3 linked regions of the Homo sapiens genome follow. The protein of the gene in region 1 interacts with the protein of each later gene in a biochemical or structural test. Each region holds a gene or a part of one and is shown on either strand. Other genes may lie near its edges.

The links.
Region 2: the proteins of DLG4 (region 1) and TBPL1 interact in a test that uses a peptide from one of them, tested with the Homo sapiens proteins (one large-scale study listed by IntAct).
Region 3: the proteins of DLG4 (region 1) and TBC1D10A interact in a test that uses a peptide from one of them, tested with the Homo sapiens proteins (one large-scale study listed by IntAct).

The regions. Positions count from the first base shown.
Region 1 is NC_000017.11:7,190,009-7,193,627, reverse strand, and holds part of DLG4 (disks large homolog 4), read left to right. Parts: intron 1-43; coding exon 44-145; intron 146-510; coding exon 511-683; intron 684-1,625; coding exon 1,626-1,735; intron 1,736-2,269; coding exon 2,270-2,361; intron 2,362-2,813; coding exon 2,814-2,920; 3' UTR 2,921-3,619. UniProt on the Homo sapiens protein: Postsynaptic scaffolding protein that plays a critical role in synaptogenesis and synaptic plasticity by providing a platform for the postsynaptic clustering of crucial synaptic proteins.
Region 2 is NC_000006.12:133,956,108-133,959,756, forward strand, and holds part of TBPL1 (TATA box-binding protein-like 1), read left to right. Parts: intron 1-3,649. UniProt on the Homo sapiens protein: Part of a specialized transcription system that mediates the transcription of most ribosomal proteins through the 5'-TCT-3' motif which is a core promoter element at these genes. Seems to also mediate the transcription of NF1. Does not bind the TATA box.
Region 3 is NC_000022.11:30,316,799-30,320,447, reverse strand, and holds part of TBC1D10A (TBC1 domain family member 10A), read left to right. Parts: intron 1-3,649.

The sequences.
Region 1 (3,619 bases):
TCCCCCAACCCTGCGCTCGGCCTAAGCCAGGCTCTCTCTGCAGTGCACTATGCTCGCCCCATCATCATCCTTGGGCCCACCAAGGACCGCGCCAACGATGATCTTCTCTCCGAGTTCCCCGACAAGTTTGGATCCTGTGTTCCCCGTGAGTGCTGGGGCCTTGGATGGAGGAGAAGGTGGAAGTGGGGGTGGGGCAGGGGAGGCCCATCCCTGGGGCCATAGGCAGAGCCTCCTGGGGGATCGGTGTGTAGGGAGATACAGGGTTTCTCCGAGAAGGGGTGCTTCTCAGCCACCCTCTCATTCCATAGTACCCATGCCCAGGCCAGAGACTTGGAGGCCCTGGAGGGTGCTAGGGGAAGCGGTTCTGGCCCTCTGCAGTCTTGGTCTCCCTGGCAGCTCCCTTTCACCAAAGGACCAGCTGGGCACTATGGGGATTTGATTGAAGTAGGCAGGATTTAAGCTAGAGGGATGGTGGTTAGATCTTTGGGGGGTGGGGTGACTTCCTGGCAGATACGACACGGCCCAAGCGGGAGTATGAGATAGATGGCCGGGATTACCACTTTGTGTCGTCCCGGGAGAAAATGGAGAAGGACATTCAGGCGCACAAGTTCATTGAGGCCGGCCAGTACAACAGCCACCTCTATGGGACCAGCGTCCAGTCCGTGCGAGAGGTGGCAGAGCAGGTAGGACCTGGCGGGCACCCGGTCCTCTTCCTTCTCCCCTCTCCCCACCCCACTGCCTCCCTCCAGCTTTCTCTAACTCTCTCTCTCTCTGTCTCTTTCCCTGCTGGGTCTCCACTCCGCTCCTCCACCTCCTTCTCCTCTTGGGCAACTCTGTCTGACTGCCTGCTCTCTGCCCCTGCTCTCTCTCCCACCTCCCTCACTTCCTGACCCCAAATTCCCCACCACCATCTGGCCTCTTTCTCTCCCCACTCCCTTCTCCTTGCCCCATTTCTCCTCTCTTCCCATGGCCTTGTCTTTGGTGGCTTGGCCTTCCCCACTGGGTCCCTCCCTTTTTCCTGACTCCCCGCTGGCCCTCTCCCCTGCCTCACCCTTTTCTGGGGCCCGGCTCCCCTCTCCCACTCCTCTGCTAACTCCTTTCCTTTCCCCGCTGCTCCTCACCCTGCCCTCCCTCCCTCCCTCCACGGTTCCTTTCTCCATCTGCCTCACTCCCTCCCATCTGTCTCCTTGTTCCTTCCATCTGTCTGTCCTCTGTCCGTCCTCCCCTCCCTCCTCCCTCTATCCTACTTCCTTTCTCCTTTTTCTTGGCTTTCCTTCCCGCCTGTGTCACCTCTGCCTTGCACACCCCGCCCCACTCGCTGCTGCCCCGGCTCTGCCACCATCTCTTGGGTCCCTGCCTGCCTGGTGCTCCTCCCTTCCTCCATTCTGTCCTGTCCCTGCCCTCTCCCGTGCTCTCCATCTTCCCTTTCCTTTCCCTCTGTCTTTTACTCTGTCCATACCCGCTTCCTGCCTGACTCTCTGCCCCCGTGTTTCTTGACATCCATGTCACTCCCCTTCGGCCAACTTCCCATTCCCCACCTCTCCCCGTCCGTGTCCCTCCGGCACTGCTCTCTGTCCTTTCTCGCCACCCGCTGGCCCCCCTCCGCCCACCCTGCCTGCCCCCAGGGGAAGCACTGCATCCTCGATGTCTCGGCCAATGCCGTGCGGCGGCTGCAGGCGGCCCACCTGCACCCCATCGCCATCTTCATCCGCCCCCGCTCCCTGGAGAATGTGCTGTGAGTATGGTCCTGGGGGCCTCCCCTTTGCTCCCCCAACACCTGTGGCCCTGGGCCTCACAAGGCGTCTGCGTTCAACTCTCCCTTCAGAACCCTGGACAGCGGTTTCAGCAGCCCCTGAGGGGGATCCCTGGAACCCAGAGGATGTGGGGGAATCGGGTCTTTCCCCTCCTCTCCTGCCTTGGCTAGACAGGACTACATTTCCCAGCAGCCCCTGGGGCATACCAGCTGGGGCGAGTCAGGGCCTCTAGGGCTGTTGGGAATTGGAGTCCGAATCCCATCTCTGGGGCTGAAGGCTGGAAGGATGAAGCTCCGTAGATGTCCCTGGAGTAGCCACACCTGGCTGGGGCGGTTGCGGGTGGCAGGGGGGTGGGGGGTGGTTCTCATCTGTGGCCCCAGAGGATATTGGGAATTGTATTTTTTTTTTTGCTATGTGCTCCAAATAGAAGAATACTTAACATTCCTGGATAGAGGAGATAAAAGGCAGGGTCAGGTGGGTCCAGTCTCAGGCCTGCTCTCCCTCCCTCTTCACAGAGAGATTAACAAGCGGATCACAGAGGAGCAAGCCCGCAAAGCCTTCGACAGAGCCACCAAGCTGGAGCAGGAGTTCACAGAGTGCTTCTCAGGTGAGGCCACAGCAAGGCTGTTGCCAGCATGTAGGGTGCCCTTGCTCGGATTAGAAAGAGCTCCCCCGCCACCCCCAGTGGATGGCTTAGAAAGAGGTGCCCCTGTGGGCGCGGCATGGTGGCTCACGCCTGTAATCCCAGCACTGGCGGGCACCTGTAATCCCAGCTACTCGGTAGGCCGAGGCAGGAGAATCGCTTGAACCTGGGAGGCAGAGGTTGCAGTGAGCCGAGATCGCACCACTGCACTCCAGCCTGGCGCTAAGAGCAAAACTCAATCTCAAAAAAAAAAAAAAAAAAAAAAAAGAGGTGCCCCTGTGGGCGGGTGCAGCCCCAGGACTTATGGCTTGGAGAGTTGGAAAGAGGTGCCCCTTCCTCTGGGCTGGTGCAACCCCCTTGGCCAGGTGTCCTCTGGCCCTTCCTTGGCCTCACTCCCTGCTCCACCCCACTCCCAGCCATCGTGGAGGGTGACAGCTTTGAGGAGATCTACCACAAGGTGAAGCGTGTCATCGAGGACCTCTCAGGCCCCTACATCTGGGTTCCAGCCCGAGAGAGACTCTGATTCCTGCCCTGGCTTGGCCTGGACTCGCCCTGCCTCCATCACCTGGGCCCTTGGTCTGGACTGAATTGCCCAAGCCCTTGGCTCCCCCCGGCCTCCCTCCCACCCCTTCTTATTTATTTCCTTTCTAACTGGATCCAGCCTGTTGGAGGGGGGACACTCCTCTGCATGTATCCCCGCACCCCAGAACTGGGCTCCTGAACGCCAGGAACCTGGGGTCTGGGGGGGAGCTGGGCTCCTTGTTCCGAGCCCTTGCTCCTTAGGATCCCCGCCCCCACCTGCCCCCAATGCACACACAGACCCACCGGGGGCCACCTGCCCTCCCCCATCCTCTCCCACACACATTCCAGAAGTCAGGGCCCCCTCGAGGAGCACCCGCTGCAGGGATGCAGGGCCACAGGCCTCCGCTCTCTCCTAAGGCAGGGTCTGGGGTCACCCCTGCCCTCATCGTAATTCCCCATGTTCCTTGATTTCTCATTTATTTTTTCCACTTTTTTTCTTCTCAAAGGTGGTTTTTTGGGGGGAGAAGCAGGGGACTCCGCAGCGGGCCCCTGCCTTCCACATGCCCCCACCATTTTTCTTTGCCGGTTTGCATGAGTGGAAGGTCTAAATGTGGCTTTTTTTTTTTTTTTTCCTGGGAATTTTTTTGGGGAAAAGGGAGGGATGGGTCTAGGGAGTGGGAAATGCGGGAGGGAGGGTGGG
Region 2 (3,649 bases), on another chromosome or scaffold:
CTAGGTGATTGATTTCCTTCTGTTTCATCATAGACCATGTGATGAAATTATTGCTATAAAATATGAACGTTGCAGTTGATTTTTAGAAGAATTTATAGTAGAATGTTTCCACATTGTCTCTGAGTTAAAATCTCTGGTGTTTTCAAATTTTAGCTGTATTGTGACATTCGAACTAATAAAGATTCCCTGAAACTTAAATCCATTTTGTTGTGCCTTCTGTATGTCTGGTGCCGTGTCAGGTGTGCAAAGCTGGATGAGAGAGGTATTTCCCTTCAGGTGCTTTTTGTGCACTTGTAGGTAGCAGAGAAATGACATGTGTGTAATAAAACATGACAGACACAAATATGAATTTTAAATTCTTTATTACATACTGCCTGGTACTGTCACTATTGGTGAATGGACTTCATCATGCCTGCTAAACTAGAAGTTTCTTGAGGATCAGGAGTATGAGTAGCCATCATCATATTGTATGTCCCTGCCCTGTGTGTGTATTTTGAAGATTACGTTGTTAATAGAAGGAGATACATGTTTGTTTATTTCACTTCAAGAGCTTAGCTAGTGGATGAAGGAAACCTTTTTGAAATCTGATTCTTGATGCCTAAAATTTCAACTTTGTATTCTGGCTGTGGGCATGCAAATTACAAGCAGTGACACTTTCTCAAGCATGATTACAGCTTCTAACCAATTCAAACAATAAAGATAATGGTGGACTGCCTTCACTTGAGTAGACACGATATTTGCTCTTGTCACATGACTACCACTTTGGGAAATTTCAAAAGGATGAGAGACTGTATACGTATCTGAGGTTTTTCCAGGCTACATAGACAAATTTGATTTTTGTATTATTAACCAGTCAATCTTTTCTTTAGAAGACAGATGGAGTTTGTGTATTTGTGTAGTTGTGAAAAAGCAAGATTCTGGAAGTATGTCTTTAGTGGAAAGGAATCAGGTCACATCAGAAATTCTACTTGTCTGTGACTAAAGGGTGATAAAATAGAGAATTTGGTTTAAATGGCTGGTTTTGTGGGTTGAAGCATGCTATGGATCCCATTAAATGTTTTTAAAAAAAAACTCAATAGGGTGATTTCTGGGGTAGTGGAGATGTGCCTTTGTGTGGGAGTCAATAATGAAAATGTTTAAAATTTCACCAAAAAGTACAGCACAGAAGTTTGGCTGTTGGTTACTTTCACCATCCATTAATAAAAAATACTGAAAACCAGACGGTGTGTTAAGGACAGAGTTTTCTTAGGACATATGTGGATGATTTCAGCATTGAATTGTGCTTAGCACAAGATAGACATCTGTGTGTAGACATTGGCCCATGGTATGTTTTTGTTTTTTAACTCACTAGGTGAGAACTTAAGTCTTACTTAAAAGCAGTAAAAAAATTTGTTTCCATTAATAAAATGGTTCCAAAGAATCAGGTGTTAACGTTCCCGCTCCTGATAAATTACAAGTATTTTCACTGTGAGACAGAAGAGTTTTGATCAGAATCAGTTACGTTTTCTTGAGATTGGGATTGGTACAACACTTAAAGAGTACGGACTCTGGATGCAGGCAGCCTGTGTTCAGCATCATGGCTGTGCTTTTAATTAATGGCATGGCCTTAAATATTAAATAGCTTTCTCACTGCCCTGAGCCCCAGTTTCCTCATCTGTACTAGGGAGTTAATACTACTACTACGTTACAGGGTTGCTGTGAGAATTAGCATAAAGCACTTAGAACTTTAGTTAAAAGCTTTAAAAAGTATTAGCAGGTGCTAGTAGCAGTGGCACTGGATATTATTTTAAAGGTGAACTGTTGGACCACTTGGATGCTTTGTTTCTTTGGTTGGGAGGCTTTCTACTAGAGCATTGAAATTCTTTCTTTCTTTCTGTTCACTGACTATTGGACTCATCTCTGCTGTTAGGCTTTAGGAGGGGGAAGTACTTTTTTTAAGTTTTGAATTGTCACACAGGCATCTGGTTATCACTGATGGCAGATGGACTAAGTAAAGAGAGACATCTCTGTTTCTTGGAAAAGGAAGGCCGACAAAGCCTGGGCTGGCACCATGTTGCAGCTATTGAAATACTATTTCCCTGTGGACTTGACTTGTTTAGCTGTATGATACTTCTGAATAAAAGGAATAAACCCCAATGGTTTCATTTAACAGAATTAGGCTTTCGTTAGAAGGCACTATTTTTTACTTGTATAACCTTAGTTGATGGTAAACTTGAAGCTTGTTAGTATCAGTGTAAAGCCATGTGTTGTGAGCTTTCTGTGCCACTATGAATGTTCTAATAGTAGCTTTTTTTTGTAATTTTAGAAGTAGCTAAAATTGCTGCTCTGCCCCAGTAATTCAGGTGGCTCAAGAATGACTTCGTAGGATAGCAAAATTATTTGTTTATGGTAAAGCTAAAAACAAATACTGAAGCTACCTAATCAGGAAAATAATTTGATAATTATAGTTTTGTTTAGGCTGCTGCTGAAATAATAGCTAACTTTAAAAAGTTAAGTCCAAATGTTTTAGTTTAGTTGTGTGGACATTGGAAACTGCTGACTAAAAATAAATGTTTCTGCCTAAACAAAGTGAATTGCAGACTGTTCTTTCCTATTCTGGCTAATAACCAGGTCTTAGTTTTTAGTTGAAATCCATTTTTATAAAATATATACTATAGAGGTTTATATAAAATATATTATTAAAAGCATATTTTGCTTTAAATGTGCAGGGTAAAGTGTTATAATTCCTTCTTCCATGTTGTGCTGGTTTTGTTTATTTGTTTCAGCTGGTTTTTATAAGCTTCCACACACTAAGGAGGTTGGCAAATATGCTTGTATTTAGAGGTGTGACTTTTGTTTTCCTGTTTAAGAGAGGAAATGATCATGACTGTTGCACCAAATAGATAGAGATATATATTTCCTTTAGTTTTAGATACCCTGAGGACTGTGCTGGGAAATTTTTTTTTTGTTTGAGACAGAGTCTCACTCTGTCACCCAGACTGGAGTGCGGTGGTGGCATCTCAGCTCATTGCAACTTCGGCTTCCCAGGTTCAAGTGATTCTTGTGCCTCAGACACCCAAGTAGTTGGGATTACAGGCATGCGCCACCACGCCTAGCTAATTTTTATATTTTTAGTAGATGCAGGGTTTCCCCATGTTGGCCAGGCTAGCCTCGAACTTCTGACCTCAAGTGATCTGCCTGTCTCAGCCTCCCGGAGTGCTGGGATTATGGGCAATGGGCACGAGCCACCATGCCTGGCCTGTGTTAGGAAATTTTTAGGAAAACAGGTTGCCATGGTATCAGTACTATAGTCCACAATAAAACTTGCCTGTTTTGAGACAAAGTTCTGTCTAACACATTGTTAATTTTTCTCTAGTGTTCTTTCTTTCTTTCTTTCTTTTTGTTTTGTTTTGGAGATGGAGTCTCACTCTGTCGCCCAGGCTGGAGTGCAGTGGCGCGATCTCGGCTCACTGCAACCTCCATCTTCTGGGTTCAAGCAATTCTCCTGCCTCAGCCTCCCGAGTAACTGGGATTACAGGCACCCACCACCACACCTGGCCATTTTTTTGTATTTTTAGTAGAGATGGGGTTTTACCACATTGACCAGGCTGGTCTTGAACTTCTGACCTCAGGTGGTCCCTCTGCCTCAGCCTCCCAAAGTGTTGGAATT
Region 3 (3,649 bases), on another chromosome or scaffold:
AGGGTGCCAGGTGCTTACTGTCCCTAAGTCCCTAAGGTCCCTGAGGTCCCCACACCCAGGGCAGGAGTTAGCAGGAATCTGGCTACCTCCCCCTTCCAGTATGGAGGGCAGAGCAGGTCTCAGTACAGGGAAAGGTCATGGCCATCAAGCAGGAGAAAGGCACAGGGAGGAAAATCCTTGGAGAGGTCCTGGAAGCATGGCCAGATCAGGCCTGATTTAGTCCTCCCATAGGCCAGAGTCCGGATTGCATTGGTCTTGACCCCAACATGCTGCATAATGGCCATTTGACTTTGATATCTAGTCTGTGCCTTTTGGAAGAAGTGTTACTTTGTAGATGAGGCAGGGATTATGTTGCTTGTACCGGTGAGGAATCTGAAGGTTGGAGAACTCTTGCTGTTAGTGAACTGTGGAGCCAGACCGGAGAGGGATCCCAGGTCCTCCGACTGTCACCCAGTGCTCCTCTAGCTACATAGCACTGACCATTCTCTTCCCCTTTCTCTTCCTCAGTCGAGGTAATTGAGCCTACAGGCTCAGGATGCATTGCCGACTAGAGCAGAGCCCTGCCATCATCCATCCGTTGTCCTAGCTGATCACTTTATCCTGCAGACAGTACACTTGAGGGGTAGGAGGCCTCCTTTAACTGATTAGTCTGCCCCTGGTAAATCTATTGCCGCAATCCTGGGCCCAGAGACCCTCTCCAGCAGGGAGAACACTGTACTGGCCACCCCACTGGCAAGTCAATGCTCCTGATACTTAACCAGCTTAGAAGCCCCCACCTAGGATTTCAGGGCAGCTGCCAACTTTGGCTTTCTCTGTCTCATCCTTCCATTTCCCGTCTCTCCTCCCCCTACCCTACCCTACTCCATTCTGTGCCCTGTCCAGGTCTTCAGAGGCTGCCATAGCTTAGCACTCAACACCTCTTCAGGTAGAGAAATACTCAGCAGACCCAGCAGCCTGGGAGAGCAAACCAAGGCTTACTTTTGCCAGCTTATCCATCTTAGCAGTGAGCTTATTTACCACACATTTATTGAGCACCTACTCTGTCAGACCCTGTGATTTGGACAAGAGATATAGAACTGAACAAGATGTCTGTGTTTTATTGCCCTCAAGGCACTCACAGACTTGCTGAAAAATAGAACCACAGACAAATCTTTCCAGTGTTGAGTGATGAAGGCTGTCATTGAGGCATGCAGTTGCTCTGGGAGTACAGAGGAAAAAGCAGCCAGCCCCACCTGCAGGAGCCTAGAAAGTAGTAGCATTTGATCCAGGCTTCAGAAGAGGCAAAGCAGGGCAGTCCATTGGATGAGAGGGGGCCCATGTGCAAAGTCCCTCCCAAAAGCAGTCGTTTGAGCATGTGTGGCAAGAGCAGAGATGACAAGAAGAACGGGAGGCAGTAGGATGATACGACAAGAAGAACGGGAGGCAGTAGAATGATACGAAGCAAGGGTAGGTTAGGGAAATGGGTTGGGCAGTCTCAGTCTAGCCTTGAATGTCAGGCTGAGGCCTCTTGTGTTGCATAAAAGTTAGTCCAGGAAATGGGTTGGGCGGTCTGAGTCCAGCCTTGAATGTCAGGCTGAGGCCTCCTGTGTTGCATAAAAGTTAGTCCAGGTCTGGCATGGAAGACGGCATAAAGAGGAGCTGGATTGCAGGCAGTGAGACCTGTTGGGAGAATCAAGGATGGCCTAAAAGGGCTGTGGTGAGACCTGGAAGAGGTCTGGAGCAGTGAGGATAAAGAGGCTGGCAAATCATTAGTGCTTGGTTCATGACTGCCATGTGGGCTGATGGAGAGGTAGGAAGGCTCTGGACTAGCTGAAGTGGCTTTGGCCTCTTACAGAGTCCATTCTGGAGCCCTCTGGCTACAGGGAAGCAAGGCCAGCTGTGGCCTTCCTCTGAAGAGGGCAGTGGGCTGCTGTGACTCTGCGTTGTCACAGCTCTGGGCTCCCCAAGGTGCCTGGTATGGCTGGCTTGCCCCGGGCACATCAAGGGGTTCTTTGTCTCCTTCCAGCAGGAGAGTGGGTTGGCTGACCTGGTTGGGGAAGGAATAGGATAAGCGGTGTTGAGCTTCCTGGTCTCTGCCTGGCAGACATATTGGATGATAAGGAAGGATGCAAGGAGAACCAGAAGAGAGGACTGGGGCCTGAGGACATGGAAAACCTACCTTAGGGTGGTATGGCAACTGGGAAGGGTGGGTTTGGGCCTTTGGACACAGCATACACTGATCAAGGGGAGGCACTTGGCAACTGGAGGCTTGTTTGACCTCACCTAGCACCTTTATTCTGTTCTTAGAGGTGGTGCCTTGGCTGGGACAAAACCTGTGAGAAGGCAAACCCCTCAGCACTTACAAGGGGCACCACCAGTGGCATCCGGAGATGAGAGATTCTGGCTGGAAATGTGGATTTTAGGCTAGTGTTTGAGAAAGGGCTCTGAACCAGGCACAGGGTCAGAGTGTCAGTGATGGCTCCACCACTGACCTTTGTAATATGTGACTTAGGCACATCCCTCACCCAACCATGGGGCTAATGCTTCCAGTTTTTTTCACCCAGCACTTACTATATGTGTAGCCCTGTGCTAGGCTCAGGATATAGACCTGATCTTGCCCTCACAGGGAAATCAGACATTAAACAAGTAGTTTCAACCAGTCTGGTCAACATAGTGAGACCCTGTCTCTAAAAAATAAATTAGCTGGGCATGGTGGCACGTGCCGGTAGTCCTAGCTACTACAGAGGCTGAGGCTGAGCCTGGGAGTTTGAGGCTGCAGTGAGCTGTGATTGTGCCACTGCACTCCAGCCTGGGTGACAGAGCGAGACCCCATTTCTAAAAAAAATTTTAAAAAGAGAAAGAAGTTACCAGGTGTGGTTGTATACAAAGGATTGTGAGGATCAAATGAGATAATTGGATTAGGAGCATAGTGTAAACAAATACTGCTGAACGGAGATCTGGAGACCTTAACCCTATGCCTTACTGAGCCACTAACTAGCTGTGTGACCTTGAGAAAGTTGCTTAATCTTGGTTTTGTTTTGTTTTGTTTTGTTTTTTTGAGATGGAGTTTTGCTCTTTTGCGCAGGCTGGAGTGAAATGGCACAATTGATCTTGGCTCACTGCAACCTCTGCCTTCCGGTTCAAGCGATTCTCATGCCTCAGCCTCCCGAGTAGCTGGGGTTTTAGGTGCCCACCACCATGCCCGGCTAATTTTTGCATTTTTAGTAGAGACAGGGTTTTGCCATGTTGGCCAGGTTGGTCTCAAACTCCTGACCTCAGGTGATCCACCCACCTTGGCCTTCCAAAATGCTGGGATTACAGGCATGAGCCACCATGCCGGTCAAAAGTTGCTTAATCTTTTTAACCTCGGTTTTCCCCACATAAAAACTACGCAGTTTGTATGTGTGTGTGTATGTGTGTTTGTTTTTAAGAGACAGGGTCTGGCTCTGTCACCCAGGCTGGAATGCAGTGGTGCAATCACAGCTCACTGCAGCCTCAACCTCCCAGGCACAAGCGATCTTCCCACCTCAGCCTCCTGAGTAGCTGGGATTACAGGCTGAAGCCACCATGCCTGGCTACTTTTTTTACTTTTTGTAGAGACAGAGTCTCACTATGTTGCCCAGGCTGGTTTCAAACTCCTGGGCACAAGCGATCCTCCCTCCTCAGCCTC